Regions from separate parts of the Homo sapiens genome. Here region 1 is linked to region 2. Evidence: fine-mapped expression QTL. A gene starts in region 2. The other region holds a variant in brackets. All regions are shown on one strand. Distances are from middle to middle.

Region 1 (8,547 bases), 68 kb after region 2:
TTAGGAAGCAAAGACCTTAAAAGGCATGAACTGGCCAGGCATGGTGGCGCACGCCTGTAATGCCAGAAATTTGGGAGGCCAAGGCAGGCAGATTACTTGAGCCCAGGAGTTCAATACCAGCCTGGACAACATGGTGAAACCCCATCTCTACAACAACAAAAATACCAAAAAAAATTAGCTGGGCATGGTGGTACACATCTGCAGTCCCAGCTACTTGGGAGGCTGGGGTGGTCGGCTGGCTTGAGCCCGGGAGGTTGAGGCTGCAGTGAGCCATGATCATGCTACTGCACTCCAGCCTGGGCAACAGAGGGAAACCCTGTCTTAAAAAAAAAAAAAGGCATTGATTGTCCCAAGGTCATGTAGCTTGAGGCAGGACCAGAACGCAGGTTGTTTCATCCCGAATGCTGTGCAAGCAAAGGAAAAAGTGAGAGGTGGACCTTCCTTCAGAGAGTCTATAGCCAAACTGAGGAAAGGAGAACCCCAGGTGTAACAGCCACAACCCAGAACAAAAGGAGATGCGTCTTGGTTAGACTCTGGGGTGGTGACGTCACTCATCTCCCCTCTCTGGACCCCAGTGCCTCAGCTGTAAAACAAGGACACTGACCTTGGTGGTCTCCAAGCCTGCATCTCCCTTGCCTGTGAGTAAGGTCTGCTGGAGGGAGAGGAGGCAGGCCTGGGGAGGGCTCACTGCCTGGAAGAGAGACATTTTAAGCTGGTCCTCAAAGAAAGGGGGTGATTTTGGCTGGCAGTAGTAGGGGCTGAGGAAGCCTGCCCCGAGGAACTATGTTTGATCCAGAAGGAAAAGGTGGATTCTGAAAGCAGATGGAGAAGGCTGCTTCTGGCTTCTCAGTGCGTTTGGAAGGAAATGGGGTCCATTCTCTGAAGCTCTTTAACCGCCCCAGGATTGGTTCCAACAGGGAGGTGTAAGCGTGTGGTCCACAACCCCCACCCAACAAGCAGATTCCCAGCCTCGGGCTCACGTTAGACCGGAACCTAACATGATGTGGGCTTGGAGACCACCAAGGTCGGTGTCCTTGTTTTACAGCCGGGGCACTGAGGCCCAGAGAGGGGAGATGAGTGACGTCACCACCCCGGAGTCTAACCAAGACCCATCTCCTTTTGTTCTGGGTTGTGGCTGTTACACCCAGGGTTTTTGTTCCTCAGTTTGGCTATAGACTCTATGATGAATGTCCACCTCTCGCTTTTTCCTTTGCTTGCACTGCATTAGGAATGAGATGACCTGGGTTCTGGTCCTGCCTCAAGCCATATGACCTTGGGCCAATCAATGCCTTTTTTTTTTTTTTGGAGACAGGGTTTCCCTGTTGGCCAGGCTGGAGTGCAGTAGTATTTCAGCTCACTGCAGCCTCAACCTTGCAGGCTCAAGCCATCCTCACACCCCAGCTTCCCAAGTAGCTGGGACTGCAGGCGTGCACCACCACACCCAGCTAATTTTTTTTTTTTTTTGGATTTTTGTTGTAGAGACAGTTTCATCATGCTGCCCAGGCGGCCTAGAGCCGTACTACAGCAGGTGATCCAGAGTCAGGGCCTGGGAACAACCTGTATGATTATAGGTGAGTGACTTAACCTCTCAGAGCCTCAGCTTCCTCAACAATAAAATGGGGCTAACCACCTCAGAGGGTGGGAATTAAGAGAGGTTGTAATGTTGAAATTCATGGTGAAATTGCACATCACCACAAAAGCAGGTAGAGCTCTTGTCAATCATGCGGCTTATTTCTTACCACCACCACTCCCCCACTGCTCCAGCTTTCCTACAGGGACTTTGGGGAGAGCTGGGTTGCCTCCCCGTTCGAATGGGAGAGGGCCGGGGGCAGACAGGCAAGGGGCATGGCTTAGCTGGAAAAGCATCTGGGTCCAGTGAGGTGGTGGGGAGCAGCCAGTCCTCACAGGGCCTGTGGGAGGCTCTGGTGGAGCCAAGGGGGCTGCAGGCTGAACACACCTGGGCCCCAGGGCCATGTGGCCCAGCCCTTGGATTTCATACATGAGAAAAGGGGCCACAGCAGCCTCGCGCTCCCATGGCAACCTCAGCAAAGCAATTGCACTCCTCCCAAGACCCAGTCAGGAACAAAACTGCCGCTGAAGAGACTGGAGGAATCATAAGATAGTCTTCGAATCACAGAACAGAATCTCCCTGTCTCAGGATCTGAGAATCGTAAAACACACAATTTACAAGTACTTAGGCTCATTCCGTTGAACGTTAGGACCAAGGAGCCACAGAATCTTTCCAGTTTTAAATCACAAATCTTAGACTCACAAACAGAACAAAACCCTAGAAGCTTCTAATCTAATCCAGGCACCAGGAGTGGCAAAGGCCTGCCCCTTTCCCCCAACCCCCACCAGTGCTGGAATCCTCTGTTCCCACCGCTGACATATGGCCATTCGCCCTCTTGAATGCTCTCAGCGACAGGGGACTCAGTCAGCCGTGCTGGCTGGAGGCTGAACACGTTCCTTCCTCTTGAACGGGGAGGGAAATAAGCTCTCAACAGGAGATCCCCACTTTGTACAAATGGATTTTTCACCCCTCCTTGTTCTTTGGCTCGGTCAGAAAGACTCCCAGGGAAGTGGAAAGGAGCCAAGAGCTGCCATGAAATGACTTTACCCAGCAGACAGGCTGGTGATAGGTTTCGGTGGGAAAAAGAAAGGAAAGGGGCGATGAATTCCAACTTGCTGAGCGATAAAGGAAATTAAGGCATAATACCGAGGAGGCAGCAGTTCTATTAACCTGGGTGGAATACCAATTACTCCAGCCTTCTCAACATTGCTCCAAGTGAAGAGAAAACCCCCAAAGAGAGTGTGATTGTGGCCCAGGGCTCATCTGGATTAGACTGTTTGTTTGCCCTGGCACCCTAATGATGGGAATGAGGGAAAATTCCCCGTTTCCTGGGAGACAGCCATGCCAAAGTGGGGGAGGAAAGGCAGGCCCACGCGCAGCCACTGGACTGCTTGGCAAATGCTCAGGGCAGAGGGGGTCCCCAGGCCCACTGCAGAAAGGCTCAGTGAGGGGCCACCAGCAGCCTCCCCTCACCTGGCCCTGTCCAGGACACCTCCTCTGGTCCCATGTTCTGGGAAGGCCAAGCTTCTGCTGACTCCTATGCTACCGGGAAAGTCTCAGGTCTCTGCTGCTGGAAGCCAAAATAATCAAGCAGCAGGCCAACTGTGCGTGAGGGACCCTGCTAGATGCTGGCACGCCCTGCAGTTAGGTAAGACCTTCGGAGGTGGCCATGTCTCCAGGTGTTGGTTCTGGCAGGGCCGGGGTTCAGGGCTCTGGCCGGGACCACCCACCCATCTGAGGCCAGCCCCAGGGCCAGCAGTATGGGGATGGTTCATGGCCACAAGCCCCAGCTCAGCACCTCCAACCAGAGCTGGGCAGAAGGGGACAGACATGGCTGTGGGAGGCAAGAAGAGGAAAGGTGTGGGGTCATGTGCCCAGCAAACCCTCACCGCCCACTGGCATCCTGGCCCAGACCTCAGCCACACCGGCCACTTCTCAGAGCCCCTTACAGAGGGGTGCCCATCAGCCTAGGGGTTCTGAGCCAGCATGGCTCCCCCAGTAAGACAGGTCCCACTACAGCTTGAAGAGGAAGCCACTTTTAAACAGCCTGCCCAGTGAGCACTGCTGGCTGCCTGAAGATGATTCCACTCACCTTGGTTTTTCCTGCAAGTGAACCTTCCTCCCAGAACTAAGGTTTGGAAGATCCCAGTCTGCTGCCTGACATGGCCATTCTCCCACAAAAACAGGTGAAGGAACGCAGGACTCAAATCACGCCTTTGTCCCTTACTAGCTAAGCGACCTCAGGCAGGCTACCTGACCGCTCTGAGCCCATGTTTCCTCATTTAAAAATGTGGTGGTAGATCCTGACTCGGAGGGCAGTTGGTTGCTAGATCACGTCTATCAGTGCCCGACATAAGGGATGGCACACAGAAAATATTCAGTGACCGAAGTTCCTCCTCCCTTTATCCCAGCCGCTGTGGCAGCCCCACCACCAGGCTTTGTACACAGTGAGTCCTTAAGAGGTTTTTGTTGCAATTTTTAAAGGGCATCTGGAGGCCTAGCCTCTGTCATCCTGGGCCACCTGGTTCTTCTGTGACTTGTTTTCTCCATGTATAAAGTAGAAGGCCTGTTCCTTGGAGAAAAAGGTCAAGGCGGGTGGAATTATTACCTGGCAGCCAGCGGGGCTCACAGTGCAGGCTACTTCAGAAGCCTCGTCCCTGGCTAACACCACAATGGTTATAACGCCAAGCGGGGCAGCTGAGACTGGCCCACCTGGACACACAGGCAATGAGTGGAGGTCACAGGAGGTCTGGCCACCAGCTTCCCTGCACCTCCACCCCTGCCCCCACACTAGTCTCTCCTCAGCCCCACAGGGAGCCAGGGGCCTCTAGAATGGCCTCTCCTCCACCCACGTGCATGGGCCCTGGCACAGGAGAGGCGCTGAGGAGGAAGCTGGAAGGCACCCAGCCACCCA[C/T]TCCAGGGTGAACGGTGAGCCTGCCCAAGCATGAGCTCTTATGAGGCCCAGACTGCCAGGGGGCCAGGGTGTCTGAGGCGCACACATTCCTCACTCTCTGGGAGTTGGGAGTGGAGGACCCTCCTCCCCTTCTCTATTCTATTGGGAAGCTTTCCACGACCCCATGTGGGATCAGAGACCTCTTCTGATCCACAGCCTCATCATCCTGTGTTGGTGGCACTCAACCATCTTTCTCTACCAGACTAGCAGCTCGGTGGAGGCAGGCACTGAGGAAGCGTGTGCTGAAGGCATCGCATGCAGGCAATCTGGAAGCCTGGGGCTTTTCCATCTATACAGAATGTACAGCCCAGGACACAAACCCTATTTACCCTCCAGCATTCTGCATACCTAGGAAAAGCAGTAATCATTGAAGCCTTGCTTCAGATCCTCCATTCATGCAGGAAGTGGGGCTCTGGTCTGTTCTAGTGCTGTCTAGCTGGGTGGCACTCCCACATCCTTTTCTCCAGGCATGTGAACTAGCTCTTGTGTCCTCTTTCTCTTGCCAAAGACAGTGGTATGGTACCAAGGAGAACAGAGCCAGGGGCCAGGAGGCCTGGGTTTTGGTCCCAGCTCTACCCCCCGAGCTGCTGCGTGGCTTTGAGTAAGCCACTCCCCCTCTCTGGGCCTCAGCGTCAACACCAGTTGAGGGGTTGGATCCCACTGCTCCCTGGGTCTGTTCCTGCTTTACTTCACTGCCATGAGCCATGTGTCTGGGGCTGGAGTTGGAGGAGAGTGCTGGCACCAGGCAGATGGTTCTGAGGACAGGTTCAGAGTCTGCAAGGCTGGGAGGGCACCTGCCTCTGTCCTGGGTCCCACCTCCTGGCCTGCTCCTCAGGAAACCCTGGGACACATGAACTTGGGCCTCAGCTTTGGCTCTGATCGTATTGTGATGCCATCTCTGGGCCAGGCCCTCATCTGTCTACATCACCTCACCTCATCTCCTGGTTTACGAAGCCCTTTGTATATGTCTCCTCATTTAGTTCTTACAATCACCCCTGAGGTTCAGAGAGGGACAGGATGGGCCCAGGTCACACAGCAGTCAGAGGACTATCAGGCCCAGCATTCTCCAGCAGCCCTGATATCTCCTCCTTGAAACAGGAAGAACACAGGATGTGCAGTGGGAATCCTGACCTTGCCCCCTGAGCAATACTGAGTAGGGGGGGTGGTACTCTCTCAGAACCACTTTGAGCCACCATGAAAATCTAACAGCATAAAGATGCCAAAAGCATAGGTGCCAGCCAGGGCAGCAGCCCGCTGGAACAGAAAGAGCACCACGCAGGGAGCCCCAGAGCCCAGGCTCCAGTTTTGGGTTTTCCCATCTGTCAAATGAGGGCAAGGATGCCTGCCCTGCCTCACCCACTGAAGGCCAGCTGTGCACTTGCCACACTTACCCCGTCCCACCTTCTACACAGCTGTCTGTGCCCACCACCTCAGCCAGGAGGAGTCACGAGCCCCTTCCCTATCTGCACACAGCTCAGCCTGGCTCACTGCACCAAAAAGGCAGGCCTGAGCATGGACCACACACAGAGGTATGTTCAGACAGACGTGCAGACACTCAGGCACATGCACACAGCGCATGTACTTGCAGATGGGCACCCGTGCATACAGCAAGGCACACACCACCCACTTGCACACTCAGGTGTGCGCCACATACTGAACATACTCAGACACGCATGTCATGCTGGACACACACTGCAGCACACAGACCGCATACCCACACATGCACAGTTGGCTTCATATGATGCTCACACACTGCAGACAAATATGCATAGATTTTCTTGCCTCTCCCATGACAGCCAGATGGTGGGATTCTCCCAGAGGGCTGCCATTTAATGCTCTAATTAATTTTTTAAAATTCTAGGTACCCAAAGCCTGGGTTTGTTCAATTGGTCCAGGCACGACCCAGTCTGAGGCCAAGGCGGGAAGCAGGACCTAGGACGAGGGTGTCCCACTATACCCAGGAGAGGCTTCCCCCTCACCTGGTGAGTAGATACCTAGCCTAGCAAGGGGCTGGGGTCACAGGCCCAGAATCTGAGCCTGATCCTGGTTCCAACAGTGCTCCTATGACCCAGGACAGGGAGAGACCCCTTCCCAGCAGCCCTGGCGGAGTGGTCTGGCCCCAGGTGCACACCTCAGGATGCAGGGCGCTCAGTCCCTGCGGAGGCTGCTGGCTCTCCTATCAGACTGCACTGCAGCGAGGCTTTCCTGACATGGAGGTGGGCTCGGGGCTGCACATCCAAATCCAAACACACCTTTGCTGAGCCCTACTGTGCAGGGCACACTTCAAGGCACTGTGGGAGGACAGCGCAGGGAACGGGATGTTCACAGAGCACAGAGCTACCAGAGAGTTAGTGCTGAGACAGTGCTCACCGCATCTCCAGGCAGTATGCTCCGAGCAGGCCAGAATTTCATTCTCACCCAGGTCTCCTGGGGAGCCCCACCTTATTCTCTAGGCCATGAGGATCCTGGGGGGTTCAGGCTAGCAGGAACCAAGCATCACTGGCCCTCCAGGTCTCTCCTCTGCCTTTCCTGGGGCACCGTCTTTGCTGCTAAATGTTTGGAAAAAGCAGCAATAAATTTACTGCCTCACTTATGAGCAATTTGCTGTCAGGAGCCATGTGTAAGCAGAGGGCTGAATTAACAAGGCTTAATTAACATTAATGTGACGGATCTCAAGTGAGTCGGGAAATCCCCCATCCTCACCGCCCGGACCTTGCCTGCTGATTCCCTGCTCATGTGGGAGGTGAGAGGCCCAAGGAGGGCTCTCAGAGCTGCTGACAGACGTGACTGGGGGCTGGAGGCTTGCAGGAGATCAGCACAGGAAGCCAGAGCCTCTGCAACTCCAATTCCAAAGGAGCTCTCACACTAAGTCCTTTATCCCTTGCCTGGTGCACTGGCTAACACGTGGACCTTGGAGTGCAAGAGACCCGCTTTTAAATCCTGCTGCTGCCACTCCTATGCTACGTGACCCTGGGTGTTTCCCCACCTCTCTGTGCCTCACCATCTCTATCAGTAAAGAGACAGGACAGATCCCCCCTCAGAGGGCTGTTAAAGGATCCATGGGCCGGGCACGGTGGCTCACACCTGTAATCCCAGCACTTTGGGAGGCTGAGACGGGCAGATCACCTGAGGTCAGGAGTTCGAGACCAGTCTGGCCAACATGATGAAACTCCATCTCTACTAAAAATACAAAAATTAGCTGGGCATGGTCGCAGGCGCCTGTAATGCCAGCTACTTGGGAGTCTAAGGCAAGAGAATCACTTGAACTCAGGAGGCGGAGGTTGCAGTGAGCCGAGACCATGCCATTGCACTCCAGGCTGGGCGACAGAGTGAGACTCCATCTTTAAAAAAAAAGAATTCATGAAGTCATGCATGGAGAGCAGAGGTGCTTCCCACCCCACTCCCCATAAGCATAAGCGTCATTGATGATAGTGCGTGGGGCTCATCATCTCATTTAATCTTCCCAGCCAACAGCCCTTTGAGGTAGGGCCTGCCAAGACGCCCCTGTGCAGAAGAGGAAACCAAGACACTGAGAGGGGAGGTGGCTCATCCAGCCCACATGCTGTGTGACGTTGGGGGAAGAGGCTCCAGTCACCCACTACAGTCACTGGCAGGAGCCCCTTGAAGGATCCAGAGAGCCACGGTGAGGGGAGAGGTCAGGCTGCGGGGCCATGCTGTGGACCAGTGTACCCTTGGACAGTGGGCATCTCGTCAGAGAGGCCAGGTCCCTGTTTTTCAATGACTAAGGCATTACTAAGCTGCCCCCTGAGGGCCCAGCCTGTGTCAGGCTCCGGGGATGAGATAAAGGTGGTGAAAGCTGTGCCCCTGCTCTCAGGATGGATTCCACCTCCGACTCCTCTCAGCTGTCCCCAGGGCACCCAGCCCAGCCCTGGCACGGGGCAGGCACACCTTCATTTATCATCAGTGATCGCCGTTATTCATATGAATGGGAGGATGCTTCTGAGCAGAACCAACTTTGAGCAGCAGCAGAAAGGAAGCCCAGCCCCACCCACCTACCCCGACG
Region 2 (8,680 bases):
TATTTTTTAGTTACCAAAATGGTGCTCAGAATGAATATATACATTAATGTATATAAATATACATGAATTTAAATACATACACTGAATTATTTGTATGATTTTCCTTTCATTAGATTGTTGAAATAATTATGTTCTATTTCTCTTTGTATCTCCACAATGCTTTGTCCATAGTAGTTAGTAAGTGAGATAGGCAACAAAAGCTTTAAGTGGAGGAGGGAGTGTGGGGGGTCTTATTTGTAAGATTTCTGCACTACAGGATAATCAATAAAACACACCTGCCGGCCCACTCGGTCAGGAGGAGGCCACAATGCATCATCCTCTTTGGTAATTTCACTGTCGTCAATTATTCTCTTCAGTTCCTCCATCACGCTTTTATGTACATAAGCCTGAACGCAAGTTAAAAAACAAAATGTATGTTGTATCCTTAAGCAGTGCTTTGACTCAGATAGTGATGGAAGATAAAAATAACTGTTCCTGCAGACTTATTTCTGGCATCTCCTTAAGTGGGAAGACATTCATGCTCAACCTCGGCATGATGCAGGTGAGGGACACGGTCAGAAGTATCCAGTAACTGCACCTCAGTCCCCTATCTAGCTGTTACTACCTCCTGGTACATCCTGTTCACATGGCCCTTCTGCCTGCCCACATACCCAACTCACAACGAAACCCAAAACAGGTCTGTGAGTGCCCCCTGCCATGGTTTGAATGTTTTTGTCTCCTCCAAAAAAATCATACTGAAATTAATCCCCAAAGCAACAGTGTTAAGAGATAGGGCCTTTAGGAGGTGATCAGGCCTTGAGGGCAGAGGCCCCAGGGATAGATTAGTGCTTTAGGAGAGAGCTTAAGGGAACTAGCTGGCCCCTTTCTTGTTCTTTCACCATATGAGGACACAGCATTCATTCCTTCTGGAGGATGCAAAAACAAGGCACAGTTGTGGAAGCAGAGACTGGGCCCTCACTAGACACTGAACTTGCCAGCGCCTTGATCTTGGACTTTCCAGCCTCCAAAATTGTGAGAAATATATTTTTACTGCTTACAAATTACCCAGTCTCAGGCATTTTGTTGCAGCAAAAAAGAGACTGCGACACCCACATGCCCTGGTTATTCTTTTTTTTTTTTTTTTTTGAAACGGAGCCTTGCTCTGTCGCCCAGGCTGGAGTGCAGTGGTGCGATCTCGGCTCATTGCGAACTCTGCCTCCTGGGTTCATGCCATTCTCCTGCCTCAGCCTCCTAAGTAGCTGGGACTACAGGCACCCGCCACCATGCCTGGCTAATTTTTTTGTATTTTCAGTACAGACAGGGCTTCACCGTATTAGCCAGGATGGTCTCGATCTCCTGACCTCGTGATCCGCCCGCCTCGGCCTCCCAAAGTGCTGGGATTACAGGTGTGAGTCACCGCGCCCGGCCAGTTATTCTTAACTAGGTAATACACTCCTGAGGAGCAAAATGTATTTTAAAAGATATGCCTGTGTAAAAAAATAGTGAGGATATTGACATGTGTGAATAAGCATAAAATCAATAGCTAAAATAACAATATGAAAATATATGCTAAGACATTTTCAAAGGTGGCAAAGTGGTTAAAAGGAAAGAGTAGCTTTGATGAAGCCTTAATGATGTAGTAGAAATCACAGAACGGAGAATACAAACTTTACTGGGGCAGGATTGGGAATTCCTGCTGTATCTCTTACTAGCAGGGGTAACTCAGAACAAGCCTCATAATTAATACCTGGGCCTTTATTTTCTTATTTGTAAGGGGGCTATAATACCCTCCCCCATCACATGGGCTTACAATCAGGGTTAAATAAGATGCCACGCCTGACATCTAACATGCATTCAATGATGTCAACTGCTTTCCCATGCTCCCTTTCCCACTCAGATGTAAATTAAATAGCTCTTCATTGTGTACCATGTACACAGGGAATATAGAGCACTTTAAATAGAACATATTTAATTTTATGACAGCACTTGGGAGTGGGAGGTAGCTTTTATTATTCCTGTTTTTACAGGTGAAGAAACAGAGATTTATCAAGTTCAGCCAGGAACTTGCCCAAGGTCACATGGGGTAGTAAGCAGCAGACTCAGGGTTCAAACCAAGGTATGTCAAAGGTTACCAGTAATTGATTCCACAATGTAAAATAAAAAAATCCCAACTAAAAGATGATTTGGGAAATAATCCAGAAGCTGTCTACAGACATGTGTCTCTCTCCCTGTTCTTTATCTTTCAATACTACTAGAAACAATAAAAACAATGCAAGACAAAAAGCTGAAATGTAGCAAATGAAGGACTCTCAGAAGGCAGAAGGCTCATACCTCTTTTCTGATCATGACATCATTCTTGTAATTGCTGTTGTTGGCATATCTTAACTTCCCTGTGGGGGCAAAAAACAATTTCAACGTATAATAAAAACATATGAATAAAGCATCAATACCATGCCAAGGCATCAGCAGTTGCCCAAAATGTATCTAACTTGCTAAAAGTGTCTAACAGATTTATTATTTACTCTTAAGGTATTTCAACAATACTAGTCTTTTCAGTTCTTCACTTCAGGCTTAAACAGCCAAATATACAGCTGAAACTCAACTACTGCAAAAAGCAGCTCAGGTGGGGTATAAACACAGGCAGGCTCTTTTCTGACTTTGTCAAATCACATTTTTGCAGGTGAATGTCCTGAAAACAGGCCTAGTAACTGATAACTTACCGACACATAGGACCTCCTGAGGCTCAAATGAGCTGTGAAAACATTTTGAAAACTGTAGGATGCAGTTTACATATATTATCATGTGACTGTGCCATACTCTATTTCTGTGATGGAGAAGCTGCTGCTTTTATCACTGAGCACATTTGGTACACAAGACCCTTTGCCCATGTGTGCATCTGACAGATTAATGGTGGGGATGAGGAGAAGACAGAAGGAAATAGAAGACATGTAGACTAGAAGACATACATGTGAGATGAGCCCAGTGAATTTATTCCAACAGCCTCTGTGCTGTCTCTCTGCCTCAAGTTTCTTCACATTCAGTTCACTGTCCATACAGTGGACAAGGTGATGTGGTAACAGATCTATCAGATTAGGTTACTCTAATACTTTGATAAAGTCAATGGCTTTCCACTGCCTTCCTGGTAAAATCCAAACTCCTCAACATGGCATACAGCTAAGCTAAGCCCCTGCCTGCTTTTCCAGCCTCATTCCTGCCAATATTCTTCTCTCACACAGCTGAAGTCAAACTACTTGGTTTCTGCCTGAAACATCCCAAGCACTTTTTGGTTTTCAGCTTCTTTGCATGCTGTCTAAAATGCCTTCTTGACTCTTCTTCGTCTCCTAACCAATTCCTCACATCCCCTCCTCCCATCATTTTATGTAGGAAGCCTCCTCTGACCCTCAGGCTTGGTTAGGTGCACCCTTCTCTGCTGCGAGCCTCCTCTGTTTCTTTTTACCACAACACCTAATGTGCTGTTTTATCACTGCTTACAAATCTATCTCCCTCACAGTCGAGGCCTGTCAGATTCATCTTTGTGCCCCACTTAGTGGATGTCTTCTGTCATCTTTGATTGCTCTTTCCTTCACCACAGTGCCTCTGCCAACAAAATCCTATCAACGATCAAAGTCCAGTTGGTTCTGCCTCCAACAGTTTCCTAAATCTTTCTCTCCATTTCTACTATCTCTGTAGTCCCAACCAGTATCTTTTTTTTTTTTTTTTTTTGAGACAGAGTCTTGCTCTGTCACCCAGGCTGGGGTACAGTGGCACTATCTCAGCTTGCTGCAACCTCCGCCCCAGGTTCAAGAGATTCTCCTGTCTCAGCCTCCCGAGCAGCTGGGATTACAGGCGTCTGCCACCACACCCGGCTAATTTTTGTATTTTTAGTAGAGGCGGGGTTTCACCATGTTGGCCAGGCTGGTCTTGAACTCCTGACCTCAAGTGATCCGCATACCTCGGCCTCCCAAAGGGCTGAGATTACAGGCTTGAGCCACCGCGCCCGGCCCCCAACATCTTTCGTGTCTTGACAACTGCAACAGTCTCCTAATCAATAGCCCTGTTTCCACTCTTGCCCATTCCGCACCCAATAACCAGAATGCTTTTTCAAGAAGAGATCACATTTCTTCTCTGCTTAAAACCTTCCAAGCCCGGCCGGGCGCGGTGGCTCACACCTGTAATCCCAGCACTTTGGGACGCCGAGGCGGGCGTATCACCTGAGGTCAGGAGTTCGAGACCAGCCTGGCCAACATGGTGAAACTCCGTCTCTACTAAAAATACAAAATTAGCCGGGCGTGGTGGTGGGCGCCTATAATTCCAGCTACTCGGGAGGCTGAGGCAGGAGAATCACTTGAACCCGGGAGGCGGAGGTTGCAATAAGCCGAGATCGCGCCATTGCACTCCAGCCTGGGCAAAAAGAGCGAAAGCCGTCTCAAAAAAAAAAAAAAAAAAAAGGCCTTCCAAGTCCAAACTTTTTACCGTGGTCTATAAAGACCTAAGAGGTGCCGCTCCTACCTACCTATCCGACATCATCTCCTGCTATCTCCCAGCTCACCACTCTTCAACCACACTGACCACCTGAGACACGCCTAGCTCATTCCCGCCCTGCAGCCTTGACATCTGGTATTCCCTTTGTGTAGAATGGTCTTCCTTATGAGCTTCACAAGGCTGAGCCCTTCTTGTTAATTAGGACTCGGCTGCAATATACCCTTTACAGAGAGCTCTCTAATGGCCAACCTATCTAAAAGCAGCCCATCCAGCAATTATTCTACCATGTTATTTTTTGACCACTCACTGCTATCTGGAATCATCTTTTTGTTTATGATCTCTCTCCCGGCAGTAAAACACAAGTTCCACGAGAGGGGAAGTTTGTCTACCTTCGCTGCCGTATTCCCAAAGAGTGGAACAGAGCCTGGCACACAGTGGGCGTTCAGTCAACGTTTGCTGAATGGATAGAAAGACCCCGTGGAGCAGACACAGTGGCGTTCCTTTAAGATCTGCACTGCACAGGTCTCAGTCCCTCCCTCCTCTAGTTCCCCACAGATTTCCGACCCTCGGCCTCCCCACTCGCCGGCCCCCAGGCCTGGTCCCCGCTCCCGGCGGGCGGCAGGCTGCTTTTACCGTCCGGTCGAAACTCAAACTCCAGGAACTCGTGGCCGAACTTGCCCTTGTGCCCCACGTAGTAACGCAGATAAAAGTCACTCTCCATGGCTCCCAAAAGACAACCGAGCCTGAACTTCCAAGAGCAAGCCGCACTGCCGCCGTCTGCGCCCGACACTGACGTTTGCGGCGGCGCGCGGAAGTGACGTCAGGTCCCGTCGTCGCTGCGTGGAGGGGTTCCTTCTCGCTAACCTCTTCGCCCGGAAGTGGCAACAAGACTGCAACATCCCCTCACGCCTAGTCTGTAAAGAACTTTGTTTAACCCGGAGGCGGGGCCAGCCAGCTCCGCCCCTCCAGCTGGACGCGGGAGCGAGGTTGAGGTTCATACCCCTGGGTTCTCTCCAGGCCTGAGGCGGAGAGCCAGCCGCCTGCCTACCTCTGGGCTTTGAACCCCGGGTCTGGTGACTTCGCTTAAAGACCTCGGGCCGAAGGCCCGCCAGGCTCAACCTCGGTTCACAGGACCCCCGACTTGTGTGAGTCGTACACCGCTCTTTACCGTCTCTGGACCTAGGTCATCTCGGCAGTAAAATGGGGTGAAATGACCCGACCTCCCCGGAGGATGCCGCGCACGATGTGTGCCTCAAGTTGGCTTCCACTGACCTGAACTGTTAAGAAAGCCCTCCTCAGTGACGCCTTCCCTGAATCCACAGTGGAGATTGCCGTTTTCCTGGAACTAATTCACCCACACTTACCCATTTCATCCCTTTCCACCTTTTATTTCTACCTTTCTGCCCCACTGATCTCTAGAATAGGTGCTGGGAGACGTTAGAGTATTTGATCTCCCACTCCCCAGTCATCCCACTTACCGAGCAGTAATTCTCTGCCTGGCTGCACATTGCAATCACTTGGGAAGCCTCTAAAAATACTGATGCCAGGGCTCTACCCCAAGCCAGTTAAAATCTCCAGCGCTGGACCTGGGCATTGGTACTTTTTGTAAAGCTTTCAGGTGAGTCAGAGTTGAGGACCACTGACCAAAGAGGTCCTTTCTTTTCAGGGTAAAGTTGTCCTCTGTGAAGCCTTTCTGGCTCTGGAAAAAATTTACAGTTGAGTAGGCCCAGGGCAATCAAGATCATAATTATGTAATAGGAACCTGCTTTCACTCATCTAAGTTCCAGGCTTAGAAAGAATGAATGGTTCTAGAGACAGTGCCGAGATGACATCATTCTTGGGTCCTGGCGGCTAGAACTGTATACGATTCTGTAAGTTGGGACAGCAGTCTCTGATTCCTATTCCCAGTCTTTTCTTTTTGAGACGGAGTTTCGCTCTTGTTGCCCAGGCTGGAGTGCAATGGAGTGATCTCAGTTCACCGCAACCTCGCCTACCTAATTTTTAAACTTTTTGTAGAGGCAAAGTCTCCCTATGTTGCCCACGCTGGTCTCAAACTCCTGGGTTCAAGTGATTCTCCTGCCTTAGCCTCCCAAGTAGCTGGGATTACAGGCATGCGCCACCATGTCCAGCTAATTTTTGTAATTTTCTGTTTTTAGTAGAGACGGGGTTTCACCATGTTGGCCAGGCTGGTCTCGAACTCCCGACCTCAGGCGATCCGTCTGCCTCGGCCTCCCAAAGTGCTGGGATTACAGGCATGAGCCACCGCGCCCGGCCCTCAGTCTTAACACGGAGTCCTTTTCTCCCTGCAAAAGCATTAGCAGCAGAGTGTAGAGTAGGTGTGGTGGGGGAAAAATCACTGGACACAGGTTAAAATAATCCCTGTGTAACAATGACTCATTGTAACCAAAGGTGAACCGACTCAACTTTTTAGACTTCAGTTTCCTTCTCTTTAAAATGAGCATAATAATGTACACCTAGCAGAACTGTTGTAAGAAACAATGTCTCGGAAACTAAATTGCTGTAAAACCATAAGACATTTTTATTACAAAACACTGGATATGGGTGGTAACAAGGGAATTGTATAAACGAGAAGGGGGCTAGACACAGTGGCTCATACCTGTAGTCCCAGCACTTTGGGAGGCTGAGGCAGGAGGATCACTTGAGCCCAGGAGTTTGAGACCAGCCTGGGCAACATAGGAGACTGTCTCTACAAAAAATTTAAAAAATAGGTAGGTGTGGTGGTGCACACCTGTAGTCCTAGCTACTTGGGAGGCTGAGGTAGGAGGATAATTTGAGCCTGGGAGGTCGAGGCTGTAGGGAACCATGATCACACCATTACACTCCAGCCTGGGTGACAAAGCAAGACCCTGTCTCAAAAAAAAAAAAAAAGAGAAAAAAAGAAAAGGGACCAGGTATCAAGCACCTAATAAATGTCAGCCCCTAGGGTCAATGGGATTACCTGTGCTTGTTCTTTGAATCATCACAACAATCTTGAGGTGGTAATTAGAGTTAAGTATGTAGAGGGATTAAGCAATTGCTACAAGGTTATTTTCCAGGAGTAAAATTATAAAAATCATAAGTGAATCTGGGGATCTTCAGATGTGGCAAATAACAAAAGTGTTGAGAAATTTAAAGGACACACAACTCCAGTCAGGCTGTGAAGTAATCCAGGTTTCTGGATATGAGACATGGTGTAACTGAAAGAGCATGGTCTGTGTGTCTGCAGTGCCTGCATTCAGCATCATTTATTTGAGCATCCACTGAGTGTCATGTGCAGAGAGGATACAATGTTGAGCAAGACAGTTGTTCACAGAGCTTGCAGAGGAGGCAGTTAAGGAGCATACAAGCAATTACAATGTAAGGATAAGATTACCAATAAAGGAAGCACAGAGGACTATGGAAGCACATGAGGTGACTCCTAATCCAGTGCAGGGTCCTTAGGGAAATGTTCCTGAAGGAAATGTTCCAGACGGAGGCCCAGAACTGTGTGATTAGAATATAGAGTAGTGAGTGATGAAGCTGGAGACAGGGCAGAAGCCAAATCATGAAGGGTTTTATAAGCCATATTAAAAGAGTTTGGGCAAACCCAAGAATATTGGATTTTTGTGCCAGCAAAGCAGTTGAAGAGCTTTAAGCAGGAAAGTGGAAAGAAGTGGTGGTGATACATCTATGGTACTTTAGAAAGACACTTTGGCTGCAGTCTTGTAGGTTAGATTGGAAAATGAAAAGACTAGAAGTATGACATTCAGATAAGTAGTTTAAGTAATCTATTAGCTGGGCAGGGTGGCGTGCACCTGTAGCCCCAGCTACTCGGGAGGCTGAGACAGGAGAATTGCTTGAGCCCAGGAGGCGGAGGTTGCAATGAGCTATGATCCTACCACTGTACTCCAGCCTGGGTAACAGAGTACGACCCTGTCTCTTAAAAAAAAAAAAAAAAAAAAGTAATGGAGATAGAAAAGTGGATGGATTTGAGATGGAATACCATAATTTAAGGGGTAGGCAAAGGATACTAAGATGTGGCCAGAGAGATAGGAGAAAAAACATGAAATGTTATCATGGAAGCCAAAATAAGAATATGCCAAGAAAAGAGTGGCTAACAGTGTTAACTACTGCTTCCAGGTCAAGGAAGAGCAAGACTGAAAATGTTTACCAGATTTATAATCGAGGAGGTCCTGGATGACCTTGGCAAAAGCAACCCCAATGGCATGGGAATGAATGG

Direction of the effects. Alleles are on the strand shown, and positions count from the first base shown. SD is a standard deviation of normalised expression in the study named.
As copies of T replace C in region 1, the expression in thyroid of the gene that starts at base 5,252 in region 2 goes down (small effect, 0.27 SD a copy in GTEx).

Evidence for each region. PIP is the estimated chance that this variant, and not a neighbour inherited with it, causes the effect.
Region 1: its variant is the best candidate, but not a certain one, in a credible set for the expression of MAGOH in thyroid (GTEx, PIP 0.64).

What each region holds. Positions count from the first base shown.
Region 1 is chr1:53,301,408-53,309,954 of GRCh38, forward strand. The region is part of intron 2 of LRP8 (LDL receptor related protein 8); the gene reads right to left. LOC105378726 (a long non-coding RNA gene) reads left to right here. Exons shown (of 6, transcript XR_007066090.1): 4 at 1,480-1,571; 5 at 6,385-6,505; 6 at 7,991-8,049. Among named protein-coding and RNA genes, the nearest start is that of LRP8, 22 kb to the right of the region's middle. RefSeq lists enhancers at 6,360-7,177, 7,892-8,393, 8,394-8,547. The variant C/T (reference allele first, on the strand shown) is at 4,485.
Region 2 is chr1:53,233,267-53,241,946 of GRCh38, forward strand. MAGOH (mago homolog, exon junction complex subunit) reads right to left here and starts at 5,252. Exons shown (of 5, transcript NM_002370.4): 1 at 5,095-5,252; 2 at 2,311-2,369; 3 at 276-386. The coding sequence starts at 5,182. MAGOH-DT (MAGOH divergent transcript) reads left to right here and starts at 5,344. Exons shown (of 3, transcript NR_038953.1): 1 at 5,344-6,079; 2 at 8,581-8,679. RefSeq lists enhancers at 4,905-5,546, 5,034-5,093, 5,134-5,263.